Linked DNA regions of Homo sapiens. The protein of the gene in region 1 interacts with the protein of each later gene in a biochemical or structural test. Each region holds a gene or a part of one and is shown in the gene's direction. Other genes may lie near its edges. The genes, in order: RAPH1, SH3GL3, VASP and SH3GL2.

Evidence for each region.
Region 2: the proteins of RAPH1 (region 1) and SH3GL3 interact in far-western blotting, tested with the Homo sapiens proteins (one study listed by IntAct).
Region 3: the proteins of RAPH1 (region 1) and VASP form a complex in vitro, tested with the Homo sapiens proteins (one study listed by BioGRID).
Region 4: the proteins of RAPH1 (region 1) and SH3GL2 interact in far-western blotting, tested with the Homo sapiens proteins (one study listed by IntAct).

Annotation. Positions count from the first base shown.
Region 1 is NC_000002.12:203,532,281-203,539,936, reverse strand, and holds the start of RAPH1 (ras-associated and pleckstrin homology domains-containing protein 1), read left to right. Parts: upstream 1-4,635; 5' UTR 4,636-4,826; intron 4,827-5,705; exon of another isoform or gene 5,706-5,728; coding exon of another isoform or gene 5,729-5,777; exon of another isoform or gene 5,778-6,549; coding exon of another isoform or gene 6,550-6,572; intron 6,573-7,656. UniProt on the Homo sapiens protein: Mediator of localized membrane signals. Implicated in the regulation of lamellipodial dynamics. Negatively regulates cell adhesion.
Region 2 is NC_000015.10:83,611,311-83,618,347, forward strand, and holds part of SH3GL3 (endophilin-A3), read left to right. Parts: intron 1-103; exon of another isoform or gene 104-107; coding exon of another isoform or gene 108-277; intron 278-6,771; coding exon 6,772-6,977; 3' UTR 6,978-7,037. UniProt on the Homo sapiens protein: Implicated in endocytosis. May recruit other proteins to membranes with high curvature.
Region 3 is NC_000019.10:45,524,443-45,527,484, forward strand, and holds the end of VASP (vasodilator-stimulated phosphoprotein), read left to right. Parts: intron 1-127; coding exon 128-218; intron 219-1,503; coding exon 1,504-1,561; intron 1,562-1,697; coding exon 1,698-1,735; 3' UTR 1,736-2,541; downstream 2,542-3,042. UniProt on the Homo sapiens protein: Ena/VASP proteins are actin-associated proteins involved in a range of processes dependent on cytoskeleton remodeling and cell polarity such as axon guidance, lamellipodial and filopodial dynamics, platelet activation and cell migration.
Region 4 is NC_000009.12:17,785,050-17,792,086, forward strand, and holds part of SH3GL2 (endophilin-A1), read left to right. Parts: intron 1-1,331; coding exon 1,332-1,475; intron 1,476-2,330; coding exon 2,331-2,464; intron 2,465-4,342; coding exon 4,343-4,501; intron 4,502-6,181; coding exon 6,182-6,285; intron 6,286-7,037. UniProt on the Homo sapiens protein: Implicated in synaptic vesicle endocytosis. May recruit other proteins to membranes with high curvature. Required for BDNF-dependent dendrite outgrowth.

The DNA of each region.
Region 1 (7,656 bases):
CTATCAATTCCTGAAAGTTTATTTTATTTAAAGCTACTTCAGGGATAGGACGACTAGATGAATATTCTATTTAGTTAGGCAATTTAATTTTATAAGTCTCCTGTTCAATTATCAGAAAGATCATATGAAGGTGATAATCGGTCCCACTTCTCCAATGTACAAATCTTTTTATCTTATGTAAAATATTAACCATTAAAAATTAGCATATCTTTAAAAATGACTGATTGGAAACATCATTTAAAACGATATATTCCATAATTTTTTATTCCTCTCCCCATGATTGGTGGAAGGTGCTGGAATTGAGTTTGTAACTCATAAAGCAGTATGTACTGGAAAGAGAATGTGACTGGGGTCAGAAGATACTGGACCTTAGTCCAGTATCTTCTAGTAATAGCTGTTTAACTTTAGACAAGTCACTTCATGCCTTAAGCTACAGCTTCCTTTACTATAAACCAAAAATCTGGTTTAGGTCAGCATTTCCCAAAGTATGTGCTGTGGAACACATGTCTTGTAAGATGTTCCATTGGAAAAAGGGTTTCATGGTTGAATACATTTGGAAAGCGCTTGTATATAATATCTACCTCAGAAATTCCCAGTGCACATTAAAATATTAAAACCACCAGAAATCTCTCTAGTTTAGAAACCCATTGAACTGTCTGGCATTCTCATTTGATTAAAGGAACTTAAAATTTTGAGGGGGAATCACATCTACTAAAATCCTGTGGGACTAGAGTTCCAAAGAACACTTGGGGAAATGATGGACTAAGATGCCTGGATTTATGGTACTATTCTTTCTCATACAGGTATTCAGCCAGTTCCCTGAAACCTGCTCTTTTCCCACGCTCTTTATTTCAGAGGTCACCACCATTCAGTCACTCTTCTAAACCAGAATCCTGAGAGTCATTCTAAATGTCTCTGTTGCATTCACTCCCTCATATCCAGTTATATATTCTGTAGATTCTACCTGTTTAATATATCTCCCATCTAGTCCCTCCTCGCCATTTTATGACCTCTTGATTTTATTGAGACCTGCAGCACACATCTCATTAGGATTCAGGTTGTTGCCATCACCTCCTAATTTTCTCCTGCTCCAGTCTGGTCTTCTTGGTCTCCAAAACACAAACTCAGTTGTTCTGGAGCTAAAATACTTCAAATATTTTATTATTTACTACATTTCCCAGAGTATCAAATTCAAATTCCTTAGTTTAACAAGAGCCCCTTCATGAATGAAGCCCTTCCTACCCTTTCCTCCAACCTCTTTGACTCTTCTCTATGCCTGTTCTGACAAAATGGAATTACTTACTAATACGGTTTGTCTCTGTGTCCCCACCCAAATCTCATCTTATAGCTCCCATAATTTCCACCTGCTGTAGGAGGGACCCAGTGGGAGATAGTTGAATCATGGGGGTGGGTCTTTCCCGTGCTGTTCTCATAATAGTGAATAAGTCTCATGAGATCTGATGGTTTTAAAAATGGGAGTTTCCCTGCACAAGCTCTCTTTTTGCCTGCTGCCATCCATGTAAGATGTGACTTGCTCCTCATCACCTTCTGCCATGATTGTGAGTCCTCCCCAGCCATGTGGAACTGTAAGTCCATTAAACCTCTTTTTCTTCCCAGTCTCAGGTATGTGTTTATCAGCAGCATGAAAACGGACTAATACACTTACGGTGCCTCTAAAGCATGGTGATGCTTGGTGCTTCCACACACCTGCAGAGATATTGTTTTCTTCGTTTGGAATGCTTGTTCCCTCCTTCTTCTGGTTAGCTCCTCCCTATCATTTAACATTCAGTTCAAGAATCTCCCCATCAGGAAGGCTTTCCTGATCTGGTAATGGACTTCCAGTCTAACAATGACTTCCTTACCTGCTTTACCCACTAGACTGTATGCTTTTTGTAGGCAGGAAGCATCATGCCACGTCTTTCTTGTCTTTGTATTCCTGGGCCTTAATTGTAGCTTAATAAACTCTGATTGAATGAACGAATGATTTAATGGTTTAAAGAAACTGATGAGAACACTCTTTTCTCAATGACTGAAAGTGACCTTTTTTCTCTTTTAATTAACCTTGATCTTAGGCTAAGCACTTGGAGAAGAGTTGGCTAAGACCTATGTAAAAGGCACTCAATGGTCTATTTTTTTTTTTTTTCTGAGATGGAGTCTCACTCTTGTCACCCAGGTTGGAGTGCAATGGCAGGATCTTGGCTCACTGCAAGCTCCACTCCCAAGTTCAAGTGATTCTCCTGCCTCAGCCTCCTGAGTAGCTGGGATTACAGGCACCCGCCACCATGCTCAGCTCATTTTTGTATTTTTAGTAGAGATGGGATTTCACCATGTTGGCCAGGCTAGTCTCCAACTCCTGACCTCAGGTGATCCGCCCACCTCAGCCTCCCAAAGTGCTGGGATTACAGGTGCGAGCCACCACTCCTGGCTTCAATCGTCTATTTTTTTAAGGAGGTTTAAATGAATCATCTTCCTTGTAAGGTATCACACAGCCTAGTACATTTAATGACAATAGGATTCATTAAGTTTGGCACCCAGGTGTGTCTAATGTCAACAAACTTGGTCACAAGGGAAATGAGGTGAAAGACTAGATACATTTGTATAAAATTATCACTTATGAAAAATTTTAAAGCATTTATTAATTTATAAATACTTATTGTGCAAGATACTATGCTAGATATTGTGGGAGATACAAGGATGAATAAAGTGTTGTATTATATTCACTTTTGGAGGATAACTTCTTGAAATAATTAGGTGGCAAATGATGATTCCCACAAGAAAGGAAGAGAAGTCTAAAAGAAGTTGGTCAGCAGGATCATCTTCATTTATAAGAGATAGTATTATTCTTTTATTATTTTTATTTTTTATTATACTTTAAGTTCTAGGGTACATGTGCACAACGTGCAGCTTTGTTACATATGTATACATGTGCCATGTTGGTGTGCTGCACCCATTAACTCATCATTTACATTAGGTATATCTCCTAATGCTATCCCTCCCCCCTCTCCATCCCCCCAACAGGCCCCTGTGTGATATATTCCCTGCTTTGTGTCCAAGTGTTCTCATTGTTCAAGTCCCACCTATGAGTGAGATCATGTGGTGTTTGGTTTTCTGTCCTTGCGATAGTTTGCTGAGAATGATGGTTTCCAGCTTCATCCATGTCCCTACAAAGGACATTAACTCAACCTTTTTTATGGCTGCATAGTATTCCGTGGTGTATATGTGCCACATTTTCTTAATCCAGTCAAGAGATAGTATTATTCTATACAAGAATATTGACATACCTACTGAACTTAAAATACAAAAGGGCAGTTATGTTTCAAAAGTACAGATATCTCAAGTGTGAAAGGCAGCCAGTATCTGTATTGTATGGTTCTAAATACCAATTTGAAACAGATTGTGTACCAGTTTGGAACAGATTGTACAAAAAAGACTGAAACCACTTGAAAGTCCTCAAGAATATCAGGAAGTAAGAATGTAATTAACCAAACCAGGATTTGGCCCCAGGACAGAGAAATGAACACTCTCATTCTTAGAGAGGGAGCTAGGATTTCAGGAATGTACAGTCAATGCTTTGTGAAAATTTAAATAAATTCTTAGCAAGCAGATGGGAAGACATGAAAAAGCAATGTTCATTGCAACCAATTTCAGGTCACACTCCCAATTTCTCAATTGTTTTAATGCTGTCAACAAACTTGCTTTGCATGTAGCCAAGCAAACATAACTTAGTTCCATTTGTTCCTTTCTTTGATCAACTTTAGGTGAAGGTCAAAATAAGGACATACTTAAAATCTAAAAGTCTGCCGAAGTCAAGCCTGCATCTAAAGAGGCAGCAGCTGAGCTTAGCGATAAGGAAAAATGCCGACACCTTACTACTACACAATTCCGATGGGGTGGGGGGACAGAAATTAAGGAGGCAGGATTAACAGATTTCGAAGTTTAAAAAGTAAAGGTCATCGAAATGTCCCGTTCCTAAGTTTCCCAATACATTCCATGAAACTGCAGAGACTTTTTGGCCAAAATGGGATTTCCTAAAGAAGGGCCTCACAGATCTCAACGACAATGGTCCTGTAAGTGACCGAGCCAACCCCGGATGCGTTTCTGGAGTCTCTGAATACACGGACAGCGTATAAAGGTGGATGCGTACAGCTCCCTGACAGAACTGCTGGAGGCTGCTGTGCCTCCCAGGGCGCTAGGACAGAGGCTGCTGGGCCGGCTTCCTATGAAAGGCGAGCAGGGGGTGGGGCAGCACTGGGATTTTCCTCCCCACTCATTCATTCTCTGATTCACTCGTTCCTGTAGGCGGCTCACAGGGACTTGCGGAGGAAAGGCGAGGCACGAGCGGAGCCGCGGTTGAGTGCGGCCGGGCGCGGCCGGGCGCCTGAAGGGAGGGCGGAGGGCCGGCGCGGGGCGCGGGCTAGGGAAGGGCGGCGGGCGCGGCGGCCTGCGCCGGAAGTGAGTGGTTGGCGGCGGGCGGGGGCGGCGCGCGGTCCCGCGCGAGTCGGCCCTACAGTCGGCAGTCCGGCCCTCAACCCCGCCTTCTGCGTCTCGGCTGGACGCGAGCACACTCGGCTCCGCCGCCGCCGCCGCCGCCGCGGGGCGCTGCGGCCGCCCCGCCCCCGCTCCCGCCGCCGCCCGCCAGTCAGTCAGTCAGTCAGTCAGTCAGTCAGTCAGTCAGTCACTGAGCGCGCGGCGCGGGAGCTGCTGGCAGTCGCTGCGTCTCTGGCGAGGGAGCGCCGCGCCTGGGGAGGAGGCGGAGGCAGCGGCTGGAGGAGCGCGAGCGGCGGTTTCCTTGCCCGGGGCCGCGGGAAGGCCGACCGACTGCCGCGGTGAGTGGTTAGCCTCGCCCTCGGGGCCAGGGGGTAGGGAGCCGGCTGGGCGCGGGGCCGTGAGGCGCTCCTGCCGCTCCCGCCTCCATTTTCCCGGCGCCCGGCCCCGCCATCCGGGTGCGGTACGGTCGGCGGCAGCCTGGGGCGGGGTCGTTGCCAGGTTGGGGATCGGGCCGGGGCTGGCTGGACCGCTCCCGGCTGGTGGATGGAGGTCGGTGGGGCCTGGACTGCACCCTGCGCCCCTGGGGACCGCGACGGAGGGAGACAATGAGATAAGGGGCCGCCTGGGAGGGTGCGGTTAGGCTTCTCCGACCCAGCACCGGGGGCTGGTGGCCCGGGACCGCAGGGAGGAAAGGACTTTCCCCCGCCCAGCTGCAGAAACCAGCTACTGGATGTCGGGTTGCTTGGGTTTCGATGCCCCCATCTTTCATAGATGAGTTCAGTGCAGAGATTTTGAAAGGCGGGGCTCCTTCTGTGTCTTCTTTCTAATTAAACAGGATAAGTAATTGCTTCATTGCTTTTTAACCGCGTCTCCTCTTGCGGTCTGTATTATACATTCCCGCCGGAAATCCAAACTGCAATTCATGGGGGGGGGGGGGGGGTGGACGGAGGGAGGGGGCAGTGTGATAGTATTAGGATGCCTTCGTGTTAAGACAGGTTGAAAGATGTGGTTTTCTTAAGGCAGTGACTTAGGGTGTCCCCACTGTGTGAGCTGGAAACCGCATAAACCTTATTGCTTACAAGCTCGAAGACATGGTTTAATATGAAATAAGAGCCTTGAGGGAGGGTGTAAGTGTTACATGTGTCTTGCGTGTGTGCATTTCTTAAATTCTTTGGGAAGATCCGTTGGGGAAATCCGGGAGAATGGAAAAGTTCTTCACTCAATCTTCCAATAAGGGTTGATGTTGTCTGCAGCATTTCTCAGGGAAATGTGGAGAGCTGCTTATGTAGGTAAAGTCCACCGTTAAGGAACAGTAAAGGTAACGGGTTAGGGATGAGGCGTGATCGGATTATTAAAGAGTCAGTCCATGGGGATATTAAATTCAGCAAACATTTATGGAATACCTACTCTGTCAGTTAGGCTGGGTGACACCAGGTGAACAAGCATGGGGTGGTGGAAAGAGCTCTTCGGAGTGGGGGAAACCGTACGCCCTGGAATTGGCTTGCAATGTGAGTTGGATAAGCTATTGAACTCTGCAGTACGTTCCCTATCAGTAAAATGGGAATAACACCACCTGTTTACCTCCCCAGATGTTTTTCATGTAGATTAAATGAGATAATGTATGCAAAATGCGTAGCACCTTGCCTGGCATAGAGGTGTTTAACAGCACCTTAAATTCCTTTCCTCCTCGGGGTGGTTTTTTTGGGGGTGCGGTGCGGGGGGTTAGTGAATGTAGGTAAGTGTAATACAGTGAACTATATAGTAAAATGTTGAGGTATAGAATAGGAGAGCGAAGAAGAGAGATTAATTCTAAATTGAGGGAGGAATGCATGGAAGCCTCGGCATTTAAGTGAAACCTTTAAGGATGAGTAGGATTTCAGCAGATTCAGATGGGGAGGAGGACATTTCACATGGTGGTGCTATCCTTTGAGAGCCGAATTGAGGGGGAGGACCTTTGGGGGAGGGGCAAAATAGAGACGCTCAATAGCTTTTAACTCTTGTTGAGTCTGACCTTCAAAGATTGTCTCCGTTATTTTGCTTTTTGTGTGGTGAATTTCCCAGAAACCAGATGCAGCCCTACTCAAGTAAGTACAAAAAGCTTAATTCATGATTTTTTGGGTTAGACATTTTGTATAATTTAGATTGCTGTCTCCTGTTTGAATGTAATAAAGAATTATTTGTAGATGTTGCCTTATGATAAACGTTAGCTTTATTTGGTAGAAGCAGCAGCTTATTTTTCAGACTCAGAGGTCTCACTAAGATTATAGAGTATGTGACTGGGTGAAAGGAGTGGAGTAGTGGGCACTATTGGGTGTGTTTTCACAAATATTTAACTCTTTATTTTCCAAAGAGGTGTTTTTAACCATTGTCTTTGAGGATGATTATGTCTTTTGGTTTTGCTGCCCTTTGGTGCTCACCCCATAAATACTTACTAGATTGGCATCGTGGATAACTGTCACACTATTCACAGATTCTTGGTTACACATTGTAGAATCTCATGGCTTTGGTTGCCTTGGTTTGGAAGTAATTGAATGTCAACATTAGTATTGTTAATCCCAAACACTTAATTTTAGGAAAATTAATATTAGTGAAGCAAGATGTGACCTCAGGCAGATAACTTATCTTGGACTCTTAATTCCTTTACCTATAAAATGAGAAGTTTGGATTAGATCACTGCTTCTTAAACTGTTTCACTGAACTTGAGAATTTCAGAGATTCTGCAGATGTTTGACTTTAATCTCAATAAAAATGTATTTTAAACTTATAATAATAAAAAGTGGCCACTGTATGACGTACACTGTTTTAAACACTTTATATGTGATAATTTATTTAATTCTCGCCATAACCCTATGAAATAGAGTCTATTATTTGAGAAAATAGGCACAGACAATAAGTTGCCCAAAGACTGCAGAGCTATAGTGGCAGAGCTGGATTTGAAACCGGGCAGCCTAATTCTTAAGCTTGTATTCTTAACCATGTTTTTACACTGCCACTAAAGCAACACACACATATACTCTTTGAAAGAAATGTGGTAAAGTATGCATAACATACAAATTACCATTTTAACTATTTTTAAGTGTACAGTTCAGTGGCTTAAGTACATTATTGTGCCATCATCACCACCATCTCCAGAAATTTTTTATCATCCCAAACTGAAATTCTTCCCAT
Region 2 (7,037 bases), on another chromosome or scaffold:
TTTAACAGGGACACTCCCTTTTCTCTGTTAAAATAATCTTTGTTTCAATACTTTAACAAGGAAGACTGTGTTTTCCCACCTCTGCTCTCACGTTTCGTTGAAGCCAGGTCTCAGGAGTAAGAGAAAATCAACACAAGGCCACTTGGGGAGGGCAGTGCTGGCTGAAGCCGTCTCACTGGACAGCCCAGGGTCAGGGGTTTCAGCCGCCTGTTCAAGGACACCGAGATCCACAGCAGCCACCTGGGAGCTCCTACACAACTATGCCCAGCGATTCCAGGTGCCAGCTACTGAATGTGAGAGAGCAAGGAGGTGGAGGTGGATGAGGAACTGCCAGCTGCAGGACCACAGGGGCAAGGGGAAGGGGTTGTCAACAGGGATGGGACGCTGGGTAGGATCAGTCTTTTCTTACGAGACGTTTTCAGCTGAGGTGCTGGCTTCTGATGGTGGGAAACCAAGCATTCAGGTCCCTTGGAGAGGCTTATATCTAACAGTTGGAAAGCCTCCATTGAGGAAATCCAGCCCATTCTGCCTGGACTTTGGGGCTCCATCCATGGTGACTTTTGTGTCAAGGGAAAATTCACACACTGTCCCTCAGGCGGGCAGCAACTTAATTTCTCTTTAGCTGAACTGAACTTGCTTGCAAGCCTCTATGTAGACCAATGGCGGAAACAACTTAATCTTTTTTCCATTTCTGTTGTTGACCAAAAAAAAAAAAAAGCTTTAAAATCTTTTTTCCATTTCTTCTAATGGTGGAAAAAAGCATAATCTTGCCATTTCAAGGTAGCTCAGTCTCTTCCAATAGAAAGCATAGACTATCCGTTTATGACTTAGGCGATTCCAGATTTAAACACAGTCAATTCAGAGTAGAAATTCCCTATCAGGGCTGTTGGTTTTTCTTGAAGGTTCTCTCCTCCCCCTGGTCCAGTCCTAAGATGTTGCCTAGATGTGAGGGGGGTTTACAGAACATCATGGTGGCAGGTAGGGAGGCTCACTTCCACAGCTGAGGTGACTCGTCACAGGAGGCCTGGGGCCTGGGCCAGGATCTGTGCTGACATCTGTGGCTTAGGCCTCCCTCTCTGGGTTGCTGAATCTCTGTATTTGGAGCCGTGTGTCACTGCCCCCAGGCAGCCTCTGGCCTCAGTGGCCCCTCAGCACTTCCTGCTGGGGACTTGAGGGAATTTGTTCACAGTTCACAGGGAGCGACCAGCCTTCAGGCCCCATCTGTACTTAGTGACACCACATGGTTTCCACTGGGCTCCAGCCCCCGTGTTAGTCCAGAGAACTTTGACAGCTGCCTTCTCCCGGGATTTCTGTGGAAAGTGGAGTCTAAGACCCCCTTCCCCAGGGTGGCATCCAAGGAGCATTTCAATTTTCTTGCTCACCCTCTTCTCACTGCAGGCCCCTTCCCTGCTTCCCTGCCTCCAGAAAGAGCTTGTATCTCTTCTCTGGATGGCAGGAAACAGCTCCTCCCTCTCCATGGCTTGTAATCAAAATGCTAGGCTCTGAGTTCTTCAAGCTCTAGTTCTTGGAACCCAGAAGTTTCTCTCTCTCTCTCGCTCTTAAATCTTATAAAAGCCTACCTGGCTCTAGCATGAAAGCCTAAAAGCCTTGGCTTTCACAATGTTTCACAACTGAAATGGTATTATTTGGGAATTTAAAAGCTAAACATTGACTGCTTTGTTCATGTCTGGGTTCCACCCTCCTCCTCAAGTAAGGGAGGCAAGCCCCAGCTCCTTGGGTTGAGGGCCCCAGGCAACAGAAATGACCCAGAATGAAAAATGCATTGATACTTCAGAATATCGTCCGGCTGCATGTATAATTCAGGGCAGCCAGTCTGAGCTCTGGTTGGGGTGGATTTACCAACTGCCTACTTAGCAAGTGCCAATTGCTCTTAGTGTTGTAGCCAGCCCAGTGGTGGCTGGAGGGCCAGGTGCACTTGTACTGCCTGAGTCAGGGAGTTCTTGAACAGGGTCTTTCTACTCAGTGGTCTCTGGAGAGATGCCCTGCCTTGGGTTTAGGTGCTGATGGAGTGTGATATGAGTGCTGGTCTCTTTCCAGCTCTCAGAATATCAAAGTGGGCAATGTGGCAGTGGTTCCTTGCCAAGAATGAATGACATGAGAAGTGAGTAATGCAGCTTTTCCATGATTTGTTCTGTGTGTGTGTGCAGCAAGAACCCAGGTTTACACATGGAGGTGGTGGCCTGGTTTACACATGGAGGTGGTGCATACACTTGGACAAATGTATGCTTGCCACTAAGCATTTTGGTCATTGCAGGTGGCTTATAGAGTAAATGGGAGGGAAATATATAAATCTATCTATCTATCTATCTATCTATCTATCTATCTATCTATCTATCTATCTATCATTAGCCCTGTAATCAGTGTGTCAGCCTATGAAATGTCTTGGCAACCCTTAGTGGTGTCATAGATCATGTACGAGGTGACATGGAGCAAGGTAGCTGATGGCCTAGGGTCTGGAGCCCTCCTGTTTCTGGCTCAGCCAGTAGCCCTGGGGCCAGGCCATTATGACCTCTCAGAGGCATTGATGGCTTCTCTTGGAAAAGGAGAGGACTCATGGAGGACTGCCAAATTCCATTCTAGCATTAACATTCTGTGTTCAAGGAAATGCTTCCCGAGACTACCATGTGGTTTGGCACCTGACCCCTTCTCTGTTAAAAACTAGTCTAGTAGTGGGAGAAATGCTAAAAGAATAATAATTATTTTTATAATCCACATTAAAACAGTTATACATTAATAAAGTAGACTTTGACTCACAGCTCAGGTTGCCCTTGGTTTTCAGTGCTCAGCCCCCACCTGCCCACCCATATACACACTCCATGACCCAAGGAAAATGAAAAGTTCTGTATTGTAAGCCCTCTATTCCCCATGCTTTGTTTGAAATCATTGAATGTTGTTCTGTTCAAATTCAAAATAGTGAACTAATCCCCAATATTTACAGCCTTCCACCCCCTAGCTTTCATCATTATGACAAGAGGAATACACAGACTTAGGCAGGGGTGGGGTCTGTCACGGAAGGAGCTGTCTAGAGGCTAGAAACATCATGTAGATCATAGAGGTTATATTGCAGGTGGGTTCAGAGTTTCAAAGTCACGACCCAGTACAGGAGCTGCCTCCCTGAAGAGGAAGAAGAGCTCCCCTACCATTACCCCCTTCTCTTTCCTCGCCAGCTGAGTCTCTTTAACCTTTAACGCTTCCTTAGGGGAAGGAGAGGGGAGGATCATTTCACTGGTGGTTGTCAACCTACCCTGGACATAGGAAGGACCTGAGAAACAAAAAATACTGATGCCGGGTTCACCCTGGGCAGTGGGCTGTTTAGTGTGCCACCAAGTTGAGAACCACTGCCATAGGAAGGCAACAGGAAGCCACCTTGGTACAACCTGGGGAGCTCCGCTGATGAAGGCTCCTTAGAGTGCCCTGTTCCTTAGAGATATAGGCGCTACTCCATGAATTTCAAGCTGTCTAAACAACTATAATATAATCCTTCTCACAACAGGAATCTCCATTGCCCCAACTCTTGTCTTCCTCCTCCCATAATGCTGTCACCTCTCTACCCCTCCCCAGGACAAAGGGGCATCTCATTTGGCCAGCCACAGAAATACCCCAACGTACCTATTCTCTTTACTTGGACCTAGAAGACTTAGTGGAGAAAGAACATAATCTCTAGCAGAACTTGTTCAATTCTCACTTGAAGTCTAGAGGGAGGAAAAAGTCTTATAACAGAAAAAGGAAATAAAAATGGAAATCATCAAATAGGATGGCAAAAGTCACTTATTAAGAAAAAAAAAAACTCCTAAGATTAATCTTATTAATACTCAAAGAAAAAAAGTATGAACTAGTCAAAATTGAAGTGAGATTTTTGTGAGAGAAATGTGTCATATTAATACTGAAATATACCTAGTTAAATGAATTCATGAGAATAGCAAGGAAATATTGAAATAGAAGGGTAATGACTATGAACTAGTTTTACTAGTTATTAACATTTTATTTATTTATTTATTTTTGAGATGGAGTCTCACTCTGTCACCCAGGCTGGAGTGTAGTGGTGTGATCTCAGCTCACTGCAACCTCCGCCTCCCAGGTTCAAGTGATCCTCCTGCCTCAGCCTCTTGAGTAGCTGGGATTACAGACATGCGCTACCATGCCTGGCTAACTTTTGTATTTTTAGAGATGGGGTTTCACCATGTTGGCCAGGGTGGTCTCAAACTCCTGGCCTCAAGTGAACTGCCCGCCTTGGCCTCCCAGAGTGCTGGGATTACAGGTGTGAGCCACCACACCCGGCCTGTTAACATTTATTATAAAGCCACAGTATTTAAAATGATATGGTACTGTTACCAAAATGAGTCAGTGGGACAAAATAGAAAAAATCCAAAAATAGATCTAAGTCCCATGATGATTAAATATATGATAAAGATAAAGGCAATACTTGAAATCACTGGAGAAAATATGGATTATTTAAGTATGTTGTTATGACTGCATAAGCATTATTAAATATAATAGATATTTACCTCATTTTGCCAAAATCCAAATAGATTATAAAAGTTCTGATGTGAAAAAAATTAAATAAAAATACTAGAATAAAATTTAGTTGAGTCTTTATATAGGACTGTGGAGAATAAACCATGAATAGAAAGTTTGATTAGTTTGACTGCTTATACTCTTCAATTTGTGCATTCATGCCAAAACAAAATAGAAACCCCTTTCCCTGCCCCACTGCCAGCACAAACTTCAAAAACAAAATGAGAAAAAAAAAGAACAGATGATAAGTTGGGAATAATGTTTGTACCAGAAATGACAGATAAAGGGTAAATATGTGTAGTATAAAGGGACTTCTAAACATCTTAAGAAAAATAGTGATATTAGGTTGGTGCAAAAGTAATTGCAGGTTTTGCCACTAAAAGTAATGGTAAAAATTGTGATTGCTTTTTTTTTTTTTTTTTTTGAGATGGAGTCTTGCTCTGTCCCCCAGGCTGGAGTGCGGTGGCGCGATCTTGGCTCACTGCAACCTCCGCCTTCCGGGTTCACGCCATTCTCCTGCCTCAGCCTCTCCAAGTAGCTGGGACTACAGGTGCCCGCCACCACGCCCGGCTAATTTTTTTGTATTTTTAGTAGAGACAGGGTTTCACTGTGTTCTCGATCTCCTGAACTCGTGATCCGCCCGCCTCAGCCTCCCAAAGTGCTGGGATTACAAGCGTGAGCCACTGCGCCTGGCCACTGTGATTGCTTTTGCACCAACCTAATAGAAAAATAAATTGACACTAAATGTCAGATATTTTAGAAAGAATTCATGTTCTATGACCATGAAATCCTTTTCTTGGAATTTATCCTCAGAAATTAATAGTGCACATTTGTAGATATTTATGTATAAGCTCTTTTTCCCAAAGAATTGTCTATAAAAGCCAAGGGGGAATAAAAGAGACAACAGAAAGAAATGAAGAAAAAGGAAGAGAAATCGAGAAAAACAGGGAGGGAGAAGGAAGAAAAGAATGAAGGAAGGAAGGAAAAGAAGAGATGAAAAGAAGAGAAGGAAGGAAAAGAAAGAAGAACCGTAAATGTCCAACAATAGGAGATTAGTTGAAGAAATGTTACATTGTGAGAGCTGACAGCTAGTCAGTAACTAAAATTGAAAGATATTCACCCTAGCTTGTACAAGAAGAATCTTTTATGAAAACAACTATATGTAAATATATGCACAAATATAATCATGAAGACATCTGGAATCTGAAAGCTAGCCCAGTTATCTCTGGGGTAATGGTTTACAGCTCTGACTTTTCTTTCTCCACTTTGCATACATGTATTTTTTGTTTACAATTAGCATGATTTTGTTTTGAAAAAAATGTTTTTGATGTTATTCTGGGACTAGATGTCAGTAAATATTCTTGTCTGTAAATTCTGGTCTGTAAATATTCTTGCCTTTCTTGTCCTGGTTTCTCTCCTCCCGGCCCTTGTCCTGCCCATTAACTAGGAAGATCTTGCTGACCACCAAGGTCCTCCCTACTACCCTCTCCCCAGAGCTCCTGAACCATGAGTGATACACACTTCATATTTGTTCTTTAAAAGATTTTTGGCCATGCACAGTGGATCACGCCTGTAATCCCCACACTTTGGGAGGTTGAGGTGAGCAGATCACTTAAGGCCAGGAGTTCGAGACCAGACTGGCCAATATGGTGAAACCCCACCTGTACTAAAAATACAAAATTAGCTGGGCGTGGTGGCGCATGCCTGTAGTCCCAGCTGCTTGGGAGGCTGAGGCACGAAAATTTCTTGAACCTGGGAGGCAGAGGTTACAGTAAGCCAGGATCGCACCATTGCACTCCAGCCTGGGCAACAGAGCAAGACTCTGTCTCAAAAATAGATAAATAAATAAATAAAAGTTTCTCGTGTATTTTCTAATCCCCACAAAGAAACTGTAAGCTCCCAGAGAGAAGGAGGTGGGCCTGTGATTCCTCTGTCGCTCCCTTAGGGCTCCAGGTGGAGCTGACTGGCTGCTTTTGGGAGATGGGCTGGGCACGACTTCTCTGCCTGGGAGTATTGAAAAGATAGACTCTGGGCTCATGGGGTTGGCGCAGGCAGCTGGGAGAGCTGAGGCAGCCAGAGACCACAAACGGCACCGTGAGCTGGGTGGAGCTGGCCTTGTGGGAAGGAAGCAAGGCCTGCTGTTAAGGGTCTCTCTGAGCTTTTCCACATTTCCAATTTCCCATGGATAATCCATCATGTTCATCTGTACTTTTTGTCTCCATATCATGTGGACAGGTTCTAACATTCCCATGGACCAGCCCTGCTGTCGTGGTCTCTATGACTTTGAGCCAGAAAACCAAGGAGAATTAGGATTTAAAGAAGGGGACATCATTACATTAACCAATCAAATAGATGAAAACTGGTATGAAGGAATGATACACGGAGAATCGGGATTCTTCCCCATTAATTACGTGGAAGTGATCGTGCCTTTACCTCAGTAAATGTGTAACACAAACTCTGGACATACTTTCGTAACTGAAATGAATTCACACCAGTGTGCT
Region 3 (3,042 bases), on another chromosome or scaffold:
GCCCCAAAAATACTTGGACTTGCCCAATTTATAAGGCAGAGCTCAATGTGACCCCTGGAATAGGAGGCGGGGAAGCAGGTCCTCTCTCTAATCTCATTGCTGTCCCAAACCACACCAACTCCCCCAGGATGAAGTCGTCTTCTTCGGTGACCACTTCCGAGACCCAACCCTGCACGCCCAGCTCCAGTGATTACTCGGACCTACAGAGGGTGAAACAGGTAACTTGGGGGGGAAGTTGGGGACCACAGCAAGAGAGATCTAGGTCTGGCCCCTGCCACTGGCATGCCGTATGATCCTAGATAACATCTCAGAAACCTCAGGTTTCCAATCTGACAAATGGAGAAACTGGATTGGGTCAAGGATGACCGAGACTCCACACCCCCTTTTCTGGCACCTGTGACAGACATTATTAATCTATCACCGCGCTCATTCCAGATGAGTGCCTTGAATTCTTTCCGCACATTGACCCAGCTGTCCATCACCAATTGGAGTTGGCAGGAGGCTGGAATGCGCTTGCCAACCTTGGTACTGGATGTTCTCCAGTACTTTTCCGGCTCCAAGGATCCAGAATTCTCCCCTAGAATCCTCCAGTCACTCTGCGACCTTGACAGCGATGTCATGGTGTCGATGTAGGGGTAGGTCTCAAACCTACTACCCCTGGCTTTTCCATCAACAAGAAAGAGGGGACTCTGGCAGGGCACGGTGGCTCATGTGTGTAATTTCAGCACATTGCGAGGCTGAGGTGGGAGCATTGCTTGAGGCCAGGAGTTTGAGACCAGCCTGGGGCAACATCGGGAGACCCCCATCTCTAAAAATAACTTTTAAAAGTTACCTGAGAAGGCCAGGTGCGGTGGCTCATGCCTGTAATCCCAGCACTTTGGGAGGCCGAGGTGGGTGGATCACCTGAGGTCAGGGGTTCAAGACCAGCCTGGCCAACATGGTGAAACCCATCGCTACTAAAAATACAAAAATTAGGCTGGGAATGGTGGCTCACAGCCATAATCCCAGCAGTTTGGAAGGCTGATGGGGACGGATCACGTGAAGTCAAAAGTTCGAGACCAGCCTGGCCAACATGGCGAAACCCTGTCTCTACTAAAAATACAAAAATTAGCTGGGCCTTGTGGGGGGCACCTGTAATCCAGTTATTTGGGCGGCTGAGGCAGGAGAATCGCTTGAACCCGGGAGCCAGAGATTGCAGTCAGCCGAGATTGGGCCACTGCACTGCAGTCTGGGTGACAGGGAGACTCTGTTTCAAAAAAAAAAAGAAAAAGAAAAAGTTACCTGATTGTGGCGGCAGGTGACTGTGGTCCCAGCTACTTGGGAGGCTAAGGCAGGAGGATTACCTGAGCCTGGGAAGTTGAGGCTGCAATGAGCTGTGATCATGCCATTGCACCCTAGCCTGGGCAACAGAGCAAGGTTCCTTCTCAAAAAATAAAAGAAGGGGGATTCATTCCTGCAAGTCCCGGTACCCCCTCCTGATTAGTTTTACCCCATTAATTTTAGGAGCTTCTGGAAGAGGTGAAGAAGGAATTGCAGAAAGTGAAAGAGGAAATCATTGAAGGTGAGGTGGTTTGCTTTGGTTTTGTTCTTAAACATTTACTTATTTTGGAGGCATCATGTCCCTGGGCAAGAGCCCTGTTTTGGAAGGGAGGAGGCAGAGACTCTGCCCCTGACCTCTGCTCCTTGTTTCCTTCCAGCCTTCGTCCAGGAGCTGAGGAAGCGGGGTTCTCCCTGACCACAGGGACCCAGAAGACCCGCTTCTCCTTTCCGCACACCCGGCCTGTCACCCTGCTTTCCCTGCCTCTACTTGACTTGGAATTGGCTGAAGACTACACAGGAATGCATCGTTCCCACTCCCCATCCCACTTGGAAAACTCCAAGGGGGTGTGGCTTCCCTGCTCACACCCACACTGGCTGCTGATTGGCTGGGGAGGCCCCCGCCCTTTTCTCCCTTTGGTCCTTCCCCTCTGCCATCCCCTTGGGGCCGGTCCCTCTGCTGGGGATGCACCAATGAACCCCACAGGAAGGGGGAAGGAAGGAGGGAATTTCACATTCCCTTGTTCTAGATTCACTTTAACGCTTAATGCCTTCAAAGTTTTGGTTTTTTTAAGAAAAAAAAATATATATATATTTGGGTTTTGGGGGAAAAGGGAAATTTTTTTTTCTCTTTGGTTTTGATAAAATGGGATGTGGGAGTTTTTAAATGCTATAGCCCTGGGCTTGCCCCATTTGGGGCAGCTATTTAAGGGGAGGGGATGTCTCACCGGGCTGGGGGTGAGATATCCCCCCACCCCAGGGACTCCCCTTCCCTCTGGCTCCTTCCCCTTTTCTATGAGGAAATAAGATGCTGTAACTTTTTGGAACCTCAGTTTTTTGATTTTTTATTTGGGTAGGTTTTGGGGTCCAGGCCATTTTTTTTACCCCTTGGAGGAAATAAGATGAGGGAGAAAGGAGAAGGGGAGGAAACTTCTCCCCTCCCACCTTCACCTTTAGCTTCTTGAAAATGGGCCCCTGCAGAATAAATCTGCCAGTTTTTATAAATGCTAAGATCTCTGGAGTGATTTGAAGGCCTGTTCTGATGGGGATGGAGGTGTGCTCGGCCCCCGGTGCCCCTCCAGGAAGATTTGGTCCTCTGCTGAGAACCCCTGCCTCCTCCCAGGAATCCACCTTCCCTTCATCTTCCTTCCCACCCTGCATATTGCGCCTGCTCACTCATCCTCAGGCCCGCAGCCAGGATGATCTCTGCCCCCTCCAGCCTCCCTCCCCATGCCCCTTAGGAGGCCACTTCCTCCCCATCCCACCCTGCCCTTCACCACCCTAGGGGAGGCCAGAAGCAGCCTCACTTTGTGTAGCCTTGGGCAAGTCCATTTGCTTACCTCAGGCCTCAGTTTCTGATTTGGGAAAGGGCTCATAAGATGATTCTCTGCCCCCACTCTACCACTCTCCCAGCTTCTTTCCTCTTTTTTTTTTTTTTTTTTTTTAATGAGTTGGAGTCTTGCTCTTTCACCCAGTCTGGAGTGTAGTGGCAGGATCACAGCTCAC
Region 4 (7,037 bases), on another chromosome or scaffold:
TTTATATGAAAAAGCAAATAAGAAATGAATTTTATATTTTTTCCAGTCACCACCAGCCTTTACATGTGCTGTTAGCCTAACTGCTACATACTGTTTGGATCTAAACTTAAAGATACTTCCCTCCAGGAATCCTTTGCGATGCCCCTCCCCAACTGATGAGGACAGTGCCGCATATCTGGGACTCTCCTCAATCCCCCATCAAGGCACTTGGCATATTTACTTCACTCTAATTAATTTTAAAATAGACTCTACCCTCAGTTCATTATAAACTTTGTGAAAGCAGGGACCATAATTGTCGTGCTCATTGTAATATCCCTGGGACAGGGTTGCAGGATGTGCTCTCCTGATAACTTTTCTCATCTCTATTCAATGCCTCTAAGACTCAAAGTTTAAATAAAAGCCTTGTGAAATAAATGTCAAGATTGTCAGCCACTGAATGCTGGAAGTACCTTAAGCTGTGATTCTATCTGGGGTTTCCATTGAAGATGGGATTTGGGGTATAGTCCTAGGTTAATGTGTAATCCCAACTCTAATTTTGAACCTGAGGAACCTAGGTATCCTAGCATCAATTAAGTCATAGGCTTTAACAATTTTTTTAATAAAGCTGTTTTTGCCACTAACACTGGAATTGGTTTCTAGGCAACTTCTTTTATAAAAACAAAAACAAAGAAAGAGAAATTGAAATGTTCTCTTTGAGGCACAAAACTAATTTTCTCTAGTTATGTGCTGGAGAAGTGATTAAGTCTTTTAAATGAACACAGTATTTTTGCTCTTCATGGGTCTGTTTACCATCAGAATCTTAGTTGAGAAATGATTTTGAAAATAGTTCTGTTTCATACATGGTATAAGTGAAACAAGGCATAAGGCCCACTCTGCAGGAATTTACCATTGGTTCCTTATTTTAATCCTTAGACTCCTAGAATTGAACTATAAAACTAGAATAAAATTTAGAGATCATCACATAATTCGAGAGTTTGTAAAAAGCTCTCCATGGAAGCACCCAGCTCCACAGAGTCACTGCAGGGGCCACCACAGTGAAGGGAGGATGGGGAAGGGCACACAGTGATAGAATTTGAGCGTGTAATCCTGCTTCATCCAGAACAGAATTGCTGTAATTCATTTTAAGATCTTAAGGGAAAGGGAGAGTTTAGTGCTTTAAAAAAGTGGTTGATAAGACTGACTGACGGAGAGAACACTGGAGCGTACTGAAGGTACACTTATCAGTAGCTGAGCTACTTTGTAGGCTGCTCTGAGACCTGATCCTCCATCCAGCCCTATTTCCGCAGTGTCACATTGCCTACTCTGAAAGCTTGTTCTCTCTTCACCTTCAGCTTCCAGAGCTAAGCTCAGCATGATCAACACCATGTCAAAAATCCGTGGCCAGGAGAAGGGGCCAGGCTATCCTCAGGCAGAGGCGCTGCTGGCAGAGGCCATGCTCAAATTTGGAAGAGAGCTTGGAGATGATTGCAACTTTGGTAACAAGTGCTTCCTCACATTGTAATTCTTTCATTTGTCCATGGGGATTTTGGTGCTGGTAAGAAATTCTGTAGGGAATCGGTCAAATCATTTTATATTTTGGTTTTCAGTTTTAGATCCTACACACATGGGCCAAAAATTTGTTTTCAGAATTATTTCATCCGCTCTAATGTGATTTATCTTACAAGTTTTCTTCCCACCCCCCCCACTATAAGACCTCAGTCTTTACAACAGCTTTGGTTGACATATCCAGATGCCTCCTTGGCACTTTCTATTGGGTGTTTCTGGCAGTCATTGAGTATTGAAGCAGAGTGAGCAGGCACAGTCAGCATGATTCAAAGCCCTCCCTGCCTCATGGCCTTTTTCATAGATCTTTGCTCACTTGTATATGGTACCTAGTTCTACTGCCCAAGGTGAGACATGATTTATTCCTTCACCCTGTCTCCCCCAAAACTCAGCTACCACACCCAACATCTTCTATTTTCACCCCCTTGTGATGTGGGATCTCCTTCCTGGTTGAACCCGGCTATTTCTGGTACTTGCTTCTGCTAATAGATTTGCCTTAAGCTAGTCCCACATTAGGGAAAGCTGGTACTTACAAGAGAGGGCAGGGAGCTTCCTAAATTGCTTCTTAAAGGAAAAAGTAACTGTTCCATTCTTGATGAGAGGTATTTACCCTCTTAGGGGGCATTGAGTCTGTTGCCTGGAGTGAACTGAAGATACCTATTCTCTCTTGTCTGTTGTCTTTAGAAGACAAGTGGTAATCCTTTGGGTTTTCATCTGTGAAGGGCCCTGTTATTGCGAGTGCATTTCATCTTTATTCTGTAACATGAAAGAGCTTTATTCTCTCCTAGGCCCAGCACTTGGTGAGGTCGGGGAGGCCATGCGGGAACTGTCGGAGGTCAAAGACTCTTTGGACATAGAAGTGAAGCAGAACTTCATTGACCCTCTTCAGAATCTTCATGACAAAGATCTTAGGGAAATTCAAGTATGTACAATGAGTCTTCTGGAAAGTGGGCAGTTGAAATCATACAGATGCAGATGCCTTTTTTCTTTAGAAAACATTTTTTTAGCTTACCCTGTGTGTTGTCAGCTCTGGGCACGTTAATTACAAAACAACCCAGTAAGACAAAATGAGAGAAACCAGAAATGTGATACTTTTCAGCCTGTTATGACTGTGCCACTCATGAGGGCTGTCTCTGGCTTCTCTATGTTTGATTTTCATATTGAATAGTTTTTTTCAGACTTTTTCTCCAGAGGATAATATACTTTTCCTGAGAATACACAGTTTTGTTAATTATTCTATGGTTTGCTGGGCTGATTTCACCCACTAAAATGTTAGTTGTACTAGTTGTTAGCTTAAATAAATAGTTATTCTATCACTGCATAAGCACATATTTTTATTTTTTTCCAAGTCTAGAAATTAGATGGATGTTATGTGTTTTTATATTAATATTTTCATAATGGTTGTTAGGATTGAGGAAGAATACCAACTAGCCACTTTCTAAAACATGTAGAGCAGTTGAGCTGTTTATAATAAAGTTCATATGTCTTTGAGTGTGGAATGTTTGCTCACTTTTTTTTATCTAACAAATATTTGTTGAGCTTTTTTGAAACTTTGTTGGGTGTAAAATGGATTGCCATAACTTGAACTAGGGCCTCCTCCTCCTTATTCTAGCTTAAATCTCCTTTAGCAGTACCATTTGCTCAAGATTATAGAGTTAGTAAGTGACAGACTGACCCTAAATCCAAAATAGAACTCTGACTCCAATGCTGTACCCTATAGCTCAAATGTTTAAAAAAGAAAGTTCCTTCCAAATGAGCATTTAGTTTTTGGATCAGGGCATGGACTGAGGGGCGGGGGATGCAGTGTGAGGGAAGGTTTAGAATATTATTCTTCCTCCTTTCCTTTTCATTTTTTTAACTACTCCCTACTTTGTTTTCATTTCCTTTCATTCTGCTCCATACATACTAGTAACAAGGGAAAATCCAGGATTTTCCTTCATCCATTAGTAGTGAAAGACTAGCTATCGGGGAAAAACAATACTTTTTAGCTTTGGAAAACTACTTTGCTACCTGGTCACTAGAGATGATGGGTGGAGCCTGGGCAGCCATCTACCAGGTATGGTGCAAGGAGGGGATTGAAGCTCAGCATGGAGCATTAGATATAATCCCTTGGTAGGTCCCTTCCAAGTGAGATTTTGTTCTTGAGTTCAATTATATGTCAAGTGGGAGGCTTAAACTAAATCACTGGATTTAGTTTCTCTGGTGACAGCTGCATCAGTCAGCTGGGGCAAGTGTTAAGATGTAGATTCCTAGGCCCCCACCCTAGATATCGATTCAAGAGCTCAGGAATCCATATTGTGATGAGCAACTTACGTGATTCTAACAGACTGGATGATTTGAAAAGCAAGACTGCCATTTCTATCTCACTTAATTTCAAGGAAAGAGTTTTTCCTCTGGCTTCTCATGAGATACCATTTCTCTTGAAGACAGGGCCTGTGGGGCCTGTGAGTGTGTCCTTTCATTGTGTGTAGGGCATGTGCATTCCTTCTCTGTTTCTGTCATGGGCTGCAAAGGCTTAGTCCAGCTTGGCTTTGGCCTGACAAGGCCAGAAAATAAAGGGCACTGATATTTCCTATAATTTATCTTTTATTCTTAATTATTTTTAAAGATATTCCCCCATATTTAGCCTTTGAAAGCACTGGCCCCATTGATGCATGTTTCTTTATTTCTCTGGTGGCGTTGTATTTTAAAACTTAGCCTATCTTAATTTGGAAGTTAATGGACGTGATGGAGAAGTGAGCTCAAATAAGCCTTTTCCATAAGCCCTTTCAAAGCCTATTCCTGCCCTTGACTTTTGCAGCATCATCTAAAGAAGTTGGAGGGTCGACGCCTGGATTTTGATTATAAGAAGAAACGACAAGGCAAGATTCCGGATGAAGAGCTTCGTCAAGCTCTAGAGAAATTTGATGAGTCTAAGGAAATTGCTGAGTCAAGCATGTTCAATCTCTTGGAGATGGATGTAAGTGACTCCTGTGGTTTTCAATTTAATCTTATCATCGAGGCACAACATTAATATGTTAAAGGCCATAACCCTTAAAAGCATTAATATCTGATTACACTATGTGATAAGAACTTCAGTAGATAGTTATTTATTTTAAATAATTGTCAGTCATAAAGTAGACTGAGAAATAGAAAAGTTTCTTCTGCATTCCTGTAGTTTAACTAGATTCTCGACTGCTAATGAATCTTAAAGTACAGATGCTCCTTAACTTATGATGGGGTTAAAGTCTTGAATATATCATGTAATTTATCGAATAACGCATTAAAAGTAAAAAACAGAATGGTTGTAAGGGTACTTGAGGTATGGTTTCTACTGAGCACATATCAATTTTGCACCATCATAAAGCCTACAAATCGTAAAGTCAGGGACCATCTCTCTTATCAATAGTGGGAAGATAAAGGATATTTCTGAGGATCTATGTATAACTCAATAGAGGCCTGAGAACTCAGTTGTGGAGCAGGGGGCATCAGTAGTACTGGTGCAAGTCCCAGAGTCCAAAGGCCAGAAAGCCTAGAGCTGTGACATCCAAAGACAGGAGCGTATGGGTGTCCCTTCGCTAGAAGAGAGAGAGAACAAACTTGCCTTTCCTCTGCTTTTTATTCTATCTGGGTCCTGAGCTGAGTGGGTGGTCTCCACCCCCATAGGGAAGGGCAGCTCTTCCTTTGTTTAGTCTACTAAGTGAATGCCAGTCTCCTCTGGAAACACCCTAACAGACACACCCAGAAATAATGCTTTACCAGCTATCTGGGGATCCCTTAATCTAGTCAAGTTGTCACCTAAAATTAACCATCACATTGCCTACTTGCCTTACTCCTGACTGTGGCAGGGGAAGTGTGTTGAACATATCCAGACTTTCCTACCACCTGGAGACAGTGTAGGTTTTTGTTTATGTAAAACAACTTGTGTCCACCTAACTCCTCGAGAGGAATACTGTGTGCATGAGGGGTGCTCCAAATCACAGTGCTCCTTCCCTGCAACACAGCACCCCTCCCCATCCCCAAATTCATGGGACAACACTGCTTCTGTTGACTTGGAGGCTGCTACCCAGCTGGATCATAATGTGAAACATAAAATCAAGAGAAATCAAGCTTAGAATATTAGAGCAAGAATGAACTCAAGATGTCACTTGATTTAACCCTTTTACATTACAGATGAGGCTCAGAGAGCACAGAAGATTTTCTGTCATACCATGTCGCCTCTCCGGGTACATTATGTGAGATATTGTCACATTTTTATTAACAGTACCGATATTAACAGCATGAAAAGTATAAGGAACAAAGAGTCCTTTGGCCAGTGTACCTTCTTTTCTATAGAATAAAAGAAGTCAAATCCCAGATACAAGATTGTAGCTAAGCATGAGACTCTTTAGAGCTATATGGTCTTCCTGAGGGTTACCCATGTTGCTTCTCCTCATGGTACTGATACGCATGATTCTAAGCATAAGGATGCTTTCTTTTATCCTTGATGGATTTGAAACCTGCAGAACTATCTATCTTAGTTGGCTTATCACACAGTCATCAGCACCACCAACCAGGGGCTGTGTGTTGAGGGCAGCCCTGGTGTATGTATGAAACAGTAGTGGCTGTTTAGGGATGGTAACGTGTAAAACTAAGGCATGATTTTCCCATCAATCTGCAGATTGAACAAGTGAGCCAGCTCTCTGCACTTGTGCAAGCTCAGCTGGAGTACCACAAGCAGGCAGTCCAGATCCTGCAGCAAGTCACGGTCAGACTGGAAGAAAGGTATTCTACAGTTCCCTGCATTTCACATTTGCATTTTATTGCTATAAAATGATGTATAAAGAAATGGAAATCATAGAATACATTTGGAGACAAACGTCTGCCAAAATTCCGCTTATCCTACAGAGGCGCCTTGTGGATTGTTTTGATTTTGTTTTTTCTTGTGCTTTGTTTTACGTTGTTCTGTTGAATCTAATTTTCTGCTTATGAGAGATCGATACTTGGATTATATTTTGGCTGCCACAGGTGGAACACCAGGATGCTACTGCTGATAATGGATGCCATTTGCTGAGCAGTTATTCCATGTGGGTACTGGATACATATCATCATCAATCTTATAACAGCCCTGTAACCTAAGTGTTTTTAGCCTCGACTAACAGATGAGTAAACTGAGGCTAAGAGAGGTGAAGTAACTAGCCCAGGGTCACTCAGTGGTGCAAGTGGAGTTCACAGCCAGCCATAACCTGTGTGAGAGGCTGTTTCTTTTCACATCTTGTGTTTCTCTGAATGGCGGTCAAGTCCTCTGCCATCAGAGAGAGCTACTTTCACCTCATTAGATGTACCTCACAGCAGGGCTGTAGTAGTAGGAAACTACCGTGTGAATGTGGCTCCGTGGAGTTGTGGGGCACAGCCTGTTTGGCTATATACCAGTGGCCCTATGTTATAATATGTGTTATTTTAATTTAGCCAGATTAAACAGGATGATTTTGCTGAACATGTATACCTCAAAGGGTCACCTCAGCAAGCTTTTTTCT